2 separate regions of the Homo sapiens genome follow, and region 1 is linked to region 2. Evidence: fine-mapped expression QTL. A gene starts in region 2. The other region holds a variant in brackets. All regions are shown on one strand. Distances are between the middles of the regions.

Evidence for each region. PIP is the estimated chance that this variant, and not a neighbour inherited with it, causes the effect.
Region 1: its variant is the best candidate, but not a certain one, in a credible set for the expression of CD1D in whole blood (INTERVAL, PIP 0.57).

What each region holds. Positions count from the first base shown.
Region 1 is chr1:158,465,105-158,470,486 of GRCh38, reverse strand. It overlaps OR10K1 (olfactory receptor family 10 subfamily K member 1), which reads right to left. Exons shown (of 2, transcript NM_001004473.2): 2 at 3,029-5,081. The coding sequence starts at 4,925. The coding sequence ends at 3,984. Among named protein-coding and RNA genes, the nearest start is that of OR10R2, 4.4 kb to the left of the region's middle. The variant A/T (reference allele first, on the strand shown) is at 2,600.
Region 2 is chr1:158,178,059-158,183,440 of GRCh38, reverse strand. It overlaps CD1D (CD1d molecule), which reads right to left and starts at 2,546. Exons shown (of 6, transcript NM_001371762.2): 1 at 2,279-2,546; 2 at 1,720-1,986; 3 at 1,131-1,409; 4 at 285-563. The coding sequence starts at 2,339. RefSeq lists an enhancer at 2,016-2,075 and a silencer at 3,488-3,537.

The DNA of each region.
Region 1 (5,382 bases), 290 kb before region 2:
TTGTGTCTGGTGCAAAAACCCATGCTGTCAGTAAATTCAAATTCATTCCAGAGAGAAAGCAGAAAAAGAATTTATACCCCAAAAGCTCAGGTAATCGAAGCCAGAATAGACAAATGGGATTACATCAAACTAAAAAACTTCTGCACAGAAAAAGTAACAATCAAAAGAATAAAGAGACAGCATATGTAATGAGAGAAAATATTTGCAAACCATATATCTGATAATGGGTTAACATTCACAGCATGTGAAGAACTTTAAAAACTCAATCATAAAATAACAAATAACCCAATTAGAAATGGGCAAAGAATCTGAATAGACATTTCCCAAGACATATAAATGGACAGTAGGTAGCTGAAAAAATGCTCAACCCCACTATTCATCAGAAAATGCATATTAAAACCACAATGAGATATCGCCTCACACCTGTTAGAATGGCTATTATCAAAACGACAAAAGATGTAAAGTGTTAGGGAGGATTTGGAGAAAAGGGAACCCCTACACACTGTTGACAGTTGTAAATTAGTACAGCCATTATGGAACTCAGTAAGGGGTTCCTCAAAAAACTGAAAATATAACTACCATATGATCTTGTAATTCCACTACTTGATGTATATCGATATAAAGTCAGAATGTCAAAGAGATAGCTGCACTCCCATGTTTATGTAGCATTATTCACAATAGTCAAGGTGTGGAATCAACCTAAGTAAGTGTCTATTAACGGACAAATGTATTAGGTTGGTGCAAAAGTTATTGCAGTTTTTGCCATTGAAAGTAATGGCAAAAAAAAATACACAATTACTTTTGCACCAACCTAATATAAGAAAATGTGGTATACATACACAATAAAATATTATTCAGCCATATATAGAAAGAAGTCCTGTTTGCAACAAGATGGATGAACCTGGATGATATTATGCTAAGTGAAATAAGCCAGGAACAGAAAGACAAACACCATGTGATCTCACACATATGTGGAATCTAAAAAAAGTCAAACTCATAAAAGCAGAGAGTAGAATGTTGGTTACCAGAGGCTGAAATTGGTTGAGCAGTTGAGGGGAGAGTTTTGAAAATGTTTATCAAAGGGTACAAAATTTCAGTTAGATAGGAGAAATAATTTTAAAAGCTCTACTGCATATCTTGGTGACTATAGTTAATAATAATGTATTATATACTTGAAAATTGCTAACAGTAGATTGTAAGTGTTCTCACCACAAACAAATAAGTACATGAGCTAAAGGTATATGTTAATTAACTTTAGCCATTCTACAATACATATGTGTATCAAAATATCATGTTTTTTTTGTATTTTTTTAATTTTTTTATTTTATTATTATTATACTTTAAGTTTTAGGGTACATGTGCACAACGTGCAGGTTTGTTACATATGTATACATGTGCCATGTTGGTGTGCTGCACCCATTAACTCGTCATTTAGCATTAGGTATATCTCCTAATGCTATCCCTCCCCCTCCCCCCACCCCACAACAGTCCCCAGTGTATGATGTTCCCCTTTCTGTGTCCATGTGTTCTCATTGTTCAATTCCCACCTATGAGTGAGAACATGCGGTGTTTGGTTTTTTGTCCTTGCGATAGTTTGCTGAGAATGATGGTTTCCAGTTTCATCCATGTCCCTACAAAGGACATGAACTCATTATTTTTATGGCTGCATAGTATTCCATGGTGTATATGTGCCACATTTTCTTAATCTAGTCTATCGTTGTTGGACATTTAGGTTGGTTCCAAGTCTTTGCTATTGTGAATAGTGCTGCTATAAACATACGTGGGCATGTGTCTTTATAGCAGCATGATTTATAATCCTCTGGGTATATACCCAGTAATGGGATGGCTAGGTCAAATGGTATTTCCAGTTATAGATCCCTGAGGAATCGCCACACTGACTTCCACAATGGTTGAACTAGTTTACAGTCCCACCAACAGTGTAAAAGTGTTCCTATTTCTCCACATCTTCTCCCGCACCTGTTGTTTCCTGACTTTTTAATGATCGCCATTCTAACTGGTGTGAGATGGTATCTCATTGTGGTTTTGATTTGCATTTCTCTGATGGCCAGTGATGAGCATTTTTTCATGTGTTTTCTGGCTGCATAAATGTCTTCTTTTGAGAAGTGTCTGTTCATATCCTTTGCCCACTTTTTGATGGGGTTGTTTGTTTTTTTCTTGTAAATTTGTTTGAGTTCATTGTAGATTCTGGATATTAGCCCTTTGTCTGACAAAAACAAGAAATGGGGAAAGGATTCCCTATTTAATAAATGGTGCTGGGAAAACTGGCTAGCCATATGTAGAAAGCTGAAACTGGATCCCTTCCTTACACCTTATACAAAAATTTATTCCAGATGGATAAAAGACTTACATGTTAGACCTAAAACCATAAAAACCCTAGAAGAAAACCTAGGCAGTACCATTCAGGGCATAGGCATGGGCAAGGCCTTCATGTCTAAACACCAAAGGCAATGGCAACAAAAGCCAAAATTGACAAATGGGATCTAATTAAACTAAAGAGCTTCTGCACAGCAAAAGAAAATACCATCAGAGTGAACAGGCAACCTACAGGATGGGAGAAAATATCATGTTTTACACCATA[A/T]ATATATATAATTTTGTCAATTGAAAAGCATTTTTAAAACAGCATTTATACAGGCCTTCTTTGCTTGTCTCCAACTCATCCAGTTCTTGCTTCAGGGGTTTTGTACACATTGTTTCTTCTGTCCTAAAGGATATCCCCTTTACCTGAAGACTTTTAATTACCCTTCAGGTTACATGCAGGTTAACTCTCAGTTTCTCTGGGAAACCAACCCTATGCCATTCGATCTAAATTAGGTTTATCTTAGTATTCTCTCCTCTATCGCCTGCATGCACTTTTTCTTCAGAGAATCAACTTAAACTGGTAAGGTATTTTCCCTCATTTTTCTGTTTACTGGGACTATCTTGAACCAGGCAATAAGGCCTATGAGGGCAGAGACCACATTTATTTTGTTCATCACATTTATTTGTTTTAAAACAAGCAAATAGTTGGTTAGCTTCAGAGTGTACAAAAGGCATATAGAAAATGGAGAATAACAAAATTAGAAATGATAATACTGAAGAGGTAGGTGGAAACTAGATGATAGATTCATGACAATGAAGGACCCTTGGCATTATCTTGTAGGGCAAAGGGAGTCACTGGAGGGTTTTCCATGAGTTTTCTGGTCATTCTAGGAATCTAGCCTTCTATTAATATTAACTCAAGCCCTTTGCTTGGAATTACTTGAGATATTTCAGCAAGTAGGCAATGCTAGTAGCTTCCTTGAAGAGAGCAAATTAGTATGGTGTCTCAGGAACAAATGTGGGGGCTAAGACACACTAGTATGTGAAGGACATACATGTGCATCAGGAAGAGAACCATAAAGTGGTTCCACCTCAAACAAAGGAAGAACAAAACAACCCCAAGTAAAGGCCAAGATATTTCAATATGTAGGTTAAGGAAATGAATTGGGGACAAAAAGGACCACCAAGATTTGTAGCAGAATGTGTGGGACCAAAGTTTTCTGTTGTCTTTAGGAAAAGAAAAGTACGGATAGATGGATTTCCTGCTGTTTTCCTTTTTTTTTTCTTTTTTCTTTCTTTTTTTTTTTTTGGATACATCTTTTCTTTCCTGATGTATCCAAGCTCTCTACTTCAAGACACAGCTCTCATCAGTTTAGATGCATCTTTGCTCTCATATTAGTTTTTAAATTAGCAATATTTAAAGCAGTAAAATATAATTAAATTTGTTATGGAACTGTGTGCTCTGTTCCCATATCTGATTAGTCTTGTTAAAGTATCATGGAGAGTAGAAAGCCAGACTGTCTTAACTTCTGTGAGCCTCATTCTTCTCATATGTAAAATGTTCTTATGTTACAGTGGAGCTGGACAATTAAATGAAAAAAAATGTATAAAACACACGTTCTGCCTGGCATGTACTAGGCATTAGTAGTTTAAAAAATAGCTCTTTAACTAAGAGGATAGAAAGTTTGGCCGATTGTTCTTCGTAGGGCTGATTTGAATTCCTTATTTCTCAGACTATAAATCATTGGATTGAACAATGGGGTAAGGATGGTGTATGACACAGATATTAGGGTGTCTTGGCTTGAAGTGTAATTAGTCTTGGGCCTTAAGTAGATGAAAGAGGCACAACTGTAGTGAACAGTTACCACAATGAGATGGGAGGCACAGGTGGAGAAGGTCTTGTATCTTCCAACGGAGGAAGGGATTTTTAGAATGGCAGAGATGATGCGGATGTAGGAGACTAGGATAAGTAGCAGAGGAATGACCAAGGCAAATACACCAAGCATGAATATGACCAGCTGACTGAAGCCGGAGTGCTGAGATGCCAGTTTAAGGACAGGGGAGATGTCACAGAAGAAGTGATGGAGCTGGTTGGAGGAGTGGAAGGGCAGATGAAATACTAGGGAGGTGGTGACCAGGGAGACAGTGAAGCCACAGGCACAGGCAGCAGCCATTAGTCCCATACACACCCCATGTCCCATGAGCACTGAGTAGCGCAGTGGGTTACAGATGGCCATATAGCGATCATAGCCCATGGCTGCCAGCAGGAAGGAGTGAGAGGAGCCAAAGAAGAGGAAGGAAAACATTTGGATGGCACAGCCCAGGAAAGAAATGGTCTTCTTCTGGGACAGCAGGTCAACCAGCATCTTGGGTACAATGACAAAGGTATAGCAAATCTCAGAGCAAGAAAGGATGGCAAGGAAGAAGTACATGGGAGTATGAAGGGCTCTGTCCAGCACAATGGTGGAAATGATGATTGCATTGGTGCCCAGAGTGAACAGGTAGAGGAGCAGGAAGATAACAAAGAGCAGCTGCTGCAGCCTGGCCAGGGATGAGAAGCCGAGGACGACGAACTCTCTCACCACAGTCTTATTGACTTGCTCCATGGAGAGCACTTCTATAAAGGAGAGTCAGGGACAGAGGTAGAAACCAGGATCCAGAAAGGAGAGTGGAAATGTACGGGAAATTTCACACAAAGTTTGCAGGTGGCAGGCATTTCCAGATATTTGATGGAATTCTTCATTCCCCCATTAAAATGCCTGCTAAAAGAAGAATTAGGCAAAATATGCAAAAGAATAACTGATAGCCAGTTTGGAGGCCTTCTCTAATGTGAAGAACAGGTTATCTCTCTGACCAAGGATTAGGAAATTTGCTAATAGTTTTCCTTCTTATGTAACAGAGAGATTGTTGTTTTTGTCACTTACTATAAACCCAAGGCAACTCACTCTCCAAAGTGGAAAACGTTAACTTCAGCTACCTGAAGCTGATCAGAATATAGAACGAAAGAATGAATAATATTCAGACATAATCATGTGGACTTCAGTTTATCCAACCATGAAATGA
Region 2 (5,382 bases):
ATCGTCCTGGGATTGTTTATTCGCTGCCTACTTCTGGATCCCTGAGTTTTGTAGTCTTGTTTCTTCTTGTATATAGAGAGCACTATTTCAATCCTTTTAGACTTTCAGGTCTTTATTTCCCTCCTTCCTGTGTCTGGAACCCCTCTCTCTATCCTTTTACTGGGGGCCTCATCTCTGAAACTCCTCTAACCTGGGTATATCAAGCCACATCCCACCCCAGTGCCTCCCTCTATGCCTGAGGACCACCTCCTGCCATTTCCAGCTTGGGCCCAGCTTTTTCTCACCCCAGTAGAGGACGATGTCCTGGCCCTCTAGACTGCTGTGCTTCACCCGACAGGACAGGCCAGCTGCCTCCCCAGCCACCACATCCAGGGTTGCTCGGAGATACCATGTCTCGTCAGCATTGGGCAGGATGTCCCCTGGCTGAGTGCCCTGCTGCTCCTGCTCACCCCGCATCCACTTCACCCATACAGGCTTTGGGTAGAATCCTGAGACATGGCACACCAGCAGCAGACGGCCAGGGCCAGGACTGGGGCCACGGGACAGCCAGGCCTTGGGCTTCACTGTATCCAACAAGGGAATGGGGGGGATCTTAAAGTGAAAACTCTGCATTAGAGGCTCCAGGCCTCATATCATCCTTTTTGACTTTCAGGTCTTTATTTCCCTCCTTCCTGTATGCCCCTGACATGTTCACTTCTGGAAATGAAGTCTCCCACAACTTTCAATCCATTTGTCCCACCTTCTTCAGGGAGCCTGCCCTGATACTCCTTCTTCTTCTCTGGTCCCAGCCTCCTATGAATGCCCCTTGTCTGTTCCCCTATAACACCCTTTGTTTTGAAGTAACATATGTAGCCTATTTCAAGCATTGCATTAATTAACATCCCCCTACCAAGCAGGGATCCTAACTAACTGCCTGACACCTTTCACCCCCAGTTGTTCATTAATTGAATTCATAGAACCCAAGAGGTGCTCAGTTGATGTCTGTGAAATGAATAAATACCCTCACCCCTTATCCAGCCCCTCCTGGGCCTTCCTCTTCTTTGAATGCTCAAAGGGATGAGAACCCTGGAATGGAAAAGCCCGTTTGGAGCCCTGAAGTGGAATGCAGGGAGTAAGGAAGGCAGGCTGACCTTGCTTCTTCAGTTCCGACTTCCCTGACTCAAGGAGGCCACTGACAAATTGGGGGCAGGTGCCATTAAGGAGCCACTGCACTGTTTCCCTCGTCCACTTGTCCTGGTTGAGCACTTGAATGGCCAAGTTTACCCAAAGTGGGGCCTCTTGGGTTGGCTCCCAAGAAGTTCCTTGGAAACTCAGGATATCTTTTCCTTGAAATGCTACATGGAAGAAGTTATTTGAGGCGTTCCCAGGGTGCACCTCACAGCCAGCGGACACCTGGAGCTCCAAGGGATCTGTGGAGAGGAATGGAGAAAGATCAAAGAAGGGTTTAAAAGACTGGGAGAGATGAAAGAGAAGAAATTGATGTGCAGGTTATAATGGGGACCCAGACTTCAGGGAAAGGAAAGTAAGTGACCTGGAGTAGGCAGGAACGAGGGACACTTTGAGGAGTCAAAGCCTGGGACATCTCCAGGTAGAAGGGAAATCAGAAGAGGGTGGACAGAGCAGAGAATCTCATCAGGTGGTGCCACAGTCTCCCAGTTGAGTTTCTGTGGCCATTCTCTCCCCTTGGGTACCGGCCCAGGATCCTATCCCTCAGCTCACAGGATAAGCGTAGCATTTTGGCGAATTCCTTCACGTCCCTGGTGAAGCTGCTTCGATAAACCCGAAATATATGCTGCAGCGTCTCCCACTGCTGGTCGCTGAACGTGCCCTGGGACCAAGGCTTCAGAGAGCGGACGGTGTCCGAGTCGTTGCTCCAGCTGTGCGTCTGCAGCTCCCCCAGCCACGCCAAGCCGTCGGTGCGCGTCCAGCTGCTATTGGCGAAGGACGAGATCTGGAGGCAGCGGAGGGGGAAAAGCCTTTGCGGGACTGGGAGAGAATGAAGATTGGAGGCGTGTAGCAAGTGGCCGGGAGAGCAGCCAGCATAAAGAGAAGGAAGAAAGAAACAAGAGGAGATGAGCTTCAGGAGGCGGCTGATGCCAGCGAACTCTGTGCCGCGCTGCCTCTCCCCGGAGCCAGGGAGCAGCGAGTTTTCTACCTAGATCGCGCCAGTGCGTCCCGGGTCTCACCAGTCCCCATCAGGCGTTGCCCTCCCCGTCCCTACCCAGCTCCCTCTCTCCGCCCTCCCGCGAGTGCACTCAAGCGCCCTCGTTCCACCCACCTTCAGCGCTTCCCCAAGCCTGGAGGAGCGCCCAGAGCAGCAGAAACAGCAGGCACCCCATATCGCCCGGCGTGGGGACCTCGCGGAGCGCCGCTGCGCGCCGCCCTCTGACCTGCGCACTCTTCTCCCCCGCCGCTCAGCTCACGTCCCTTTCCGCTGGGTGCCAGCCAATTCCCAAGCCCAGACCCCGGCAGCCCTCCTCGCTGGGCTTGCCGGCGGTTTGCTGCTTCTGCCGAAGGGCGCCCTCGCCCTTAGCTGTGCGAGCTGCAAAGAGGTCGGGGTCCCAGGAATCCTGGCGCCGCCGCTCACTTCAGTAGGTTTCACAACCGGCGTGTCTCAATTTCCTGTTTCAAAGGAGACTTTGGGTCAACGTGTGGGACGCTTTACAACCATTATTTATGTTTTGGAAGCAGGACATAAGGTTGTGTCTGTGTTACAATTCCAACCATGGTAAAAATGCAAAGGGAAAAAAGGATCAAAGTCCTTGCTTTAGCAGTACATGTCTCTAGGTGGAAAGACTATGAGTGATCTTAATTTGCTTTACATCTTTATGTTTTCCAAAATTTCTCAAGTGCAAGTACCACATTTACAATAAAGTAAACGCATGAAAATTAATTTCCTCAGTTGCACATTGAGAGAACTGGATTAGGTTGGCTACAATTCTTTACAACTGTCATATCCCAGGATTCCTCCACCTCAGTGTTCCCTAGCCTCTCTTTCCTCCTGTCATGGTCCTTGCTCTCCCCTCCCCGGCCTCTGCTCTGTCTTCCCTGTCTCCTTTTTGGGGACGCGCCCCCAGACTCTCTTCCTCCTCTCCGCCCTAGGCTCTGCCGGCATACCTTCTCCTCTGGCTCCTGACTCATTCACTTTCCAAATATGCGCCTCTGTCTTAAACAGTAAGTGTAAGATGACAGTGTGTACCTGGACAGCCAACTCGCCACTTCTCACACTGAAAATAAGAAAAAGTGACCAAAAATCGTGGTTCTAAGCCTTAGCTCACCTGGAGGAAAAGACTCCTCTTTGGCAACTCAGAACCTGGGCTGCAGCCTGACACCTCCCTCTCCCTCACTCTTTTTATCCAATCTATCTCCAACTCATCTCTATTTCACTTCTTTTTGAATACCTCTTGAATAAATTCCTTTTTCTATATTTCCACCGTCACCATCACCCTAACCTTTTGACTGATCTCCTGAAGTAGCATTCTTGGGTAGAAAACAAAATCATTAGCACGGCCTGCAAGATTATGCGCCCTCTAGCCCTGGTGTCTACCTTTTGACATCACCTCACACCCCAGCATCATTTGCTCTGTACTGTAGCCTGGCTGTTAGCTTTCAGTTCCTCCACTATGCAAAACCTCTTCCTGACTAAGGTCTCTGCACAAAGTTCCCTCTACATGAAAGCTCTTGACCTTCTCCTCACCTCACCCCCTCCCAATGCCTAGTTATTTCCACTAAGGTATCAGTTCCAAGGTCACTTTCTCAGGGAAGTCTTTCCAGATCTGCCAGACTGTGTGACCCTAGGCAGGAGAAGTAGGGCAGTCCCAACCTCCACTGCTTGTACACTAACTGGCTTTGAGAAGCCATCCTCTCAGCATGTAGCAGAGTTTATAATTATAGAAATGGCCATATGTCTGTCTCCCTCTGTGTCCTCTTCTAAATCAGCTGGAGAGGTGCCAGAAGGCAAGGATCATGTCTCCATAATCTGATTCCTCCCATTCTGCTAACGTTAATGTTTCCCTTCTCCCATATCCTGTTGCAGCAAGAGTCCTAGAGAAAATAGGCTACTGCACCACACTCTAGGCTGGGATCTTGTAGACAGCCCTAACCCAGCCTATCTAATTATGTGTAATTTGCCCAAAAAAGCTTAAAATAACATAGTAACGTGTTCTTGTAACAAATAAGGTGTTAAATTATTAAATTTGGATACAAAATTGCCTAAATAATGGATAGGAGGGAAGCTATGAGAAATAAAAAGAAAAATAATTATATGACTCATGGGGCAATATTTTTAACTTTACTTTCTTCAAATTTCCAAGCTCCCTTTAAAAACTTGAACAGTTCTGTTTAGTTTTTGTGTATCTTAAAAATTTTAAGTGCTAACATTCTTGCACACTTAAAGACAAGAAGCTGGTTTGTGTGTGTGTGTGTGGTTTTTTTGTTTTTGTTTGTTTATCAACAGAGGCCAGGCTATATTACCTTCAGAAGTTAGGACTATCTGGAATTATACGGATATTTTTTCCCAAAGGTCAGTTGAGTTAGACACTTTTTGGCTATTGGAACTTTCACTGCTTTTTTTCTGGGAAAGGAACCATTGAATTATGAAACGTTTTGCAATATGTTACCTAAACAAAATATTTTATAACAAGACTGACTCAGAATACCCTAGCACAGAGAGATGGTGATTTACTCAGAGCCTTAAAATAAGCCCACGGTGGGTACTACATGATCTCACTTATATGTGGACTCTAAAATAGTTTACTATTTTATGGAAACAGAGTTAGGGTAGTGGTTTCCAGGAGCTGGAGGGAAGGGGCAAATGTGTTAATTTTGGTCAAAGGGTTTCAGCCTCTCAATTTTGAGAGGCTGACCAAAACCTTGGAGCCTGATCATAAGGGACTTACTTGGTTTCAGTTCAGAATTCACAATTCACAACGTCAAATTAGTTGGAATCTTATATGCTTTCTTCATGTTTTTGTTATCCTAACCATAAGGAGACCATTTAATGTACAAAGGATAGCTGCATATGAGAATTTAAGATTCTTGAGAGGACACATCAGGGAAACTTTTATAATAGCTATCAGGAGGATAATACCAACGAACTAAAGAACTCTTCTTAATAGCACTTTCCACAAGCCAACCTGATCAAAATCAAACAATTCAAAGTTCAGTCAATAAAGTTTAACAGCATTCAAGTGCAATTGCTCATAGTCTTTATTCAGAGCATAATGGTGATCAAGGACCGTAGTTTGCTGTAAAATGGCCTGATTTAAAGAGGTATTCATTTTTGTAAGTAGCCTGATAATACAAACCACAGTAACCTGGAGATCCACTAAAAGAAACATAAGGATTAGAAAACCTTGTGATAGCTCTCTTACCTCTCGGACG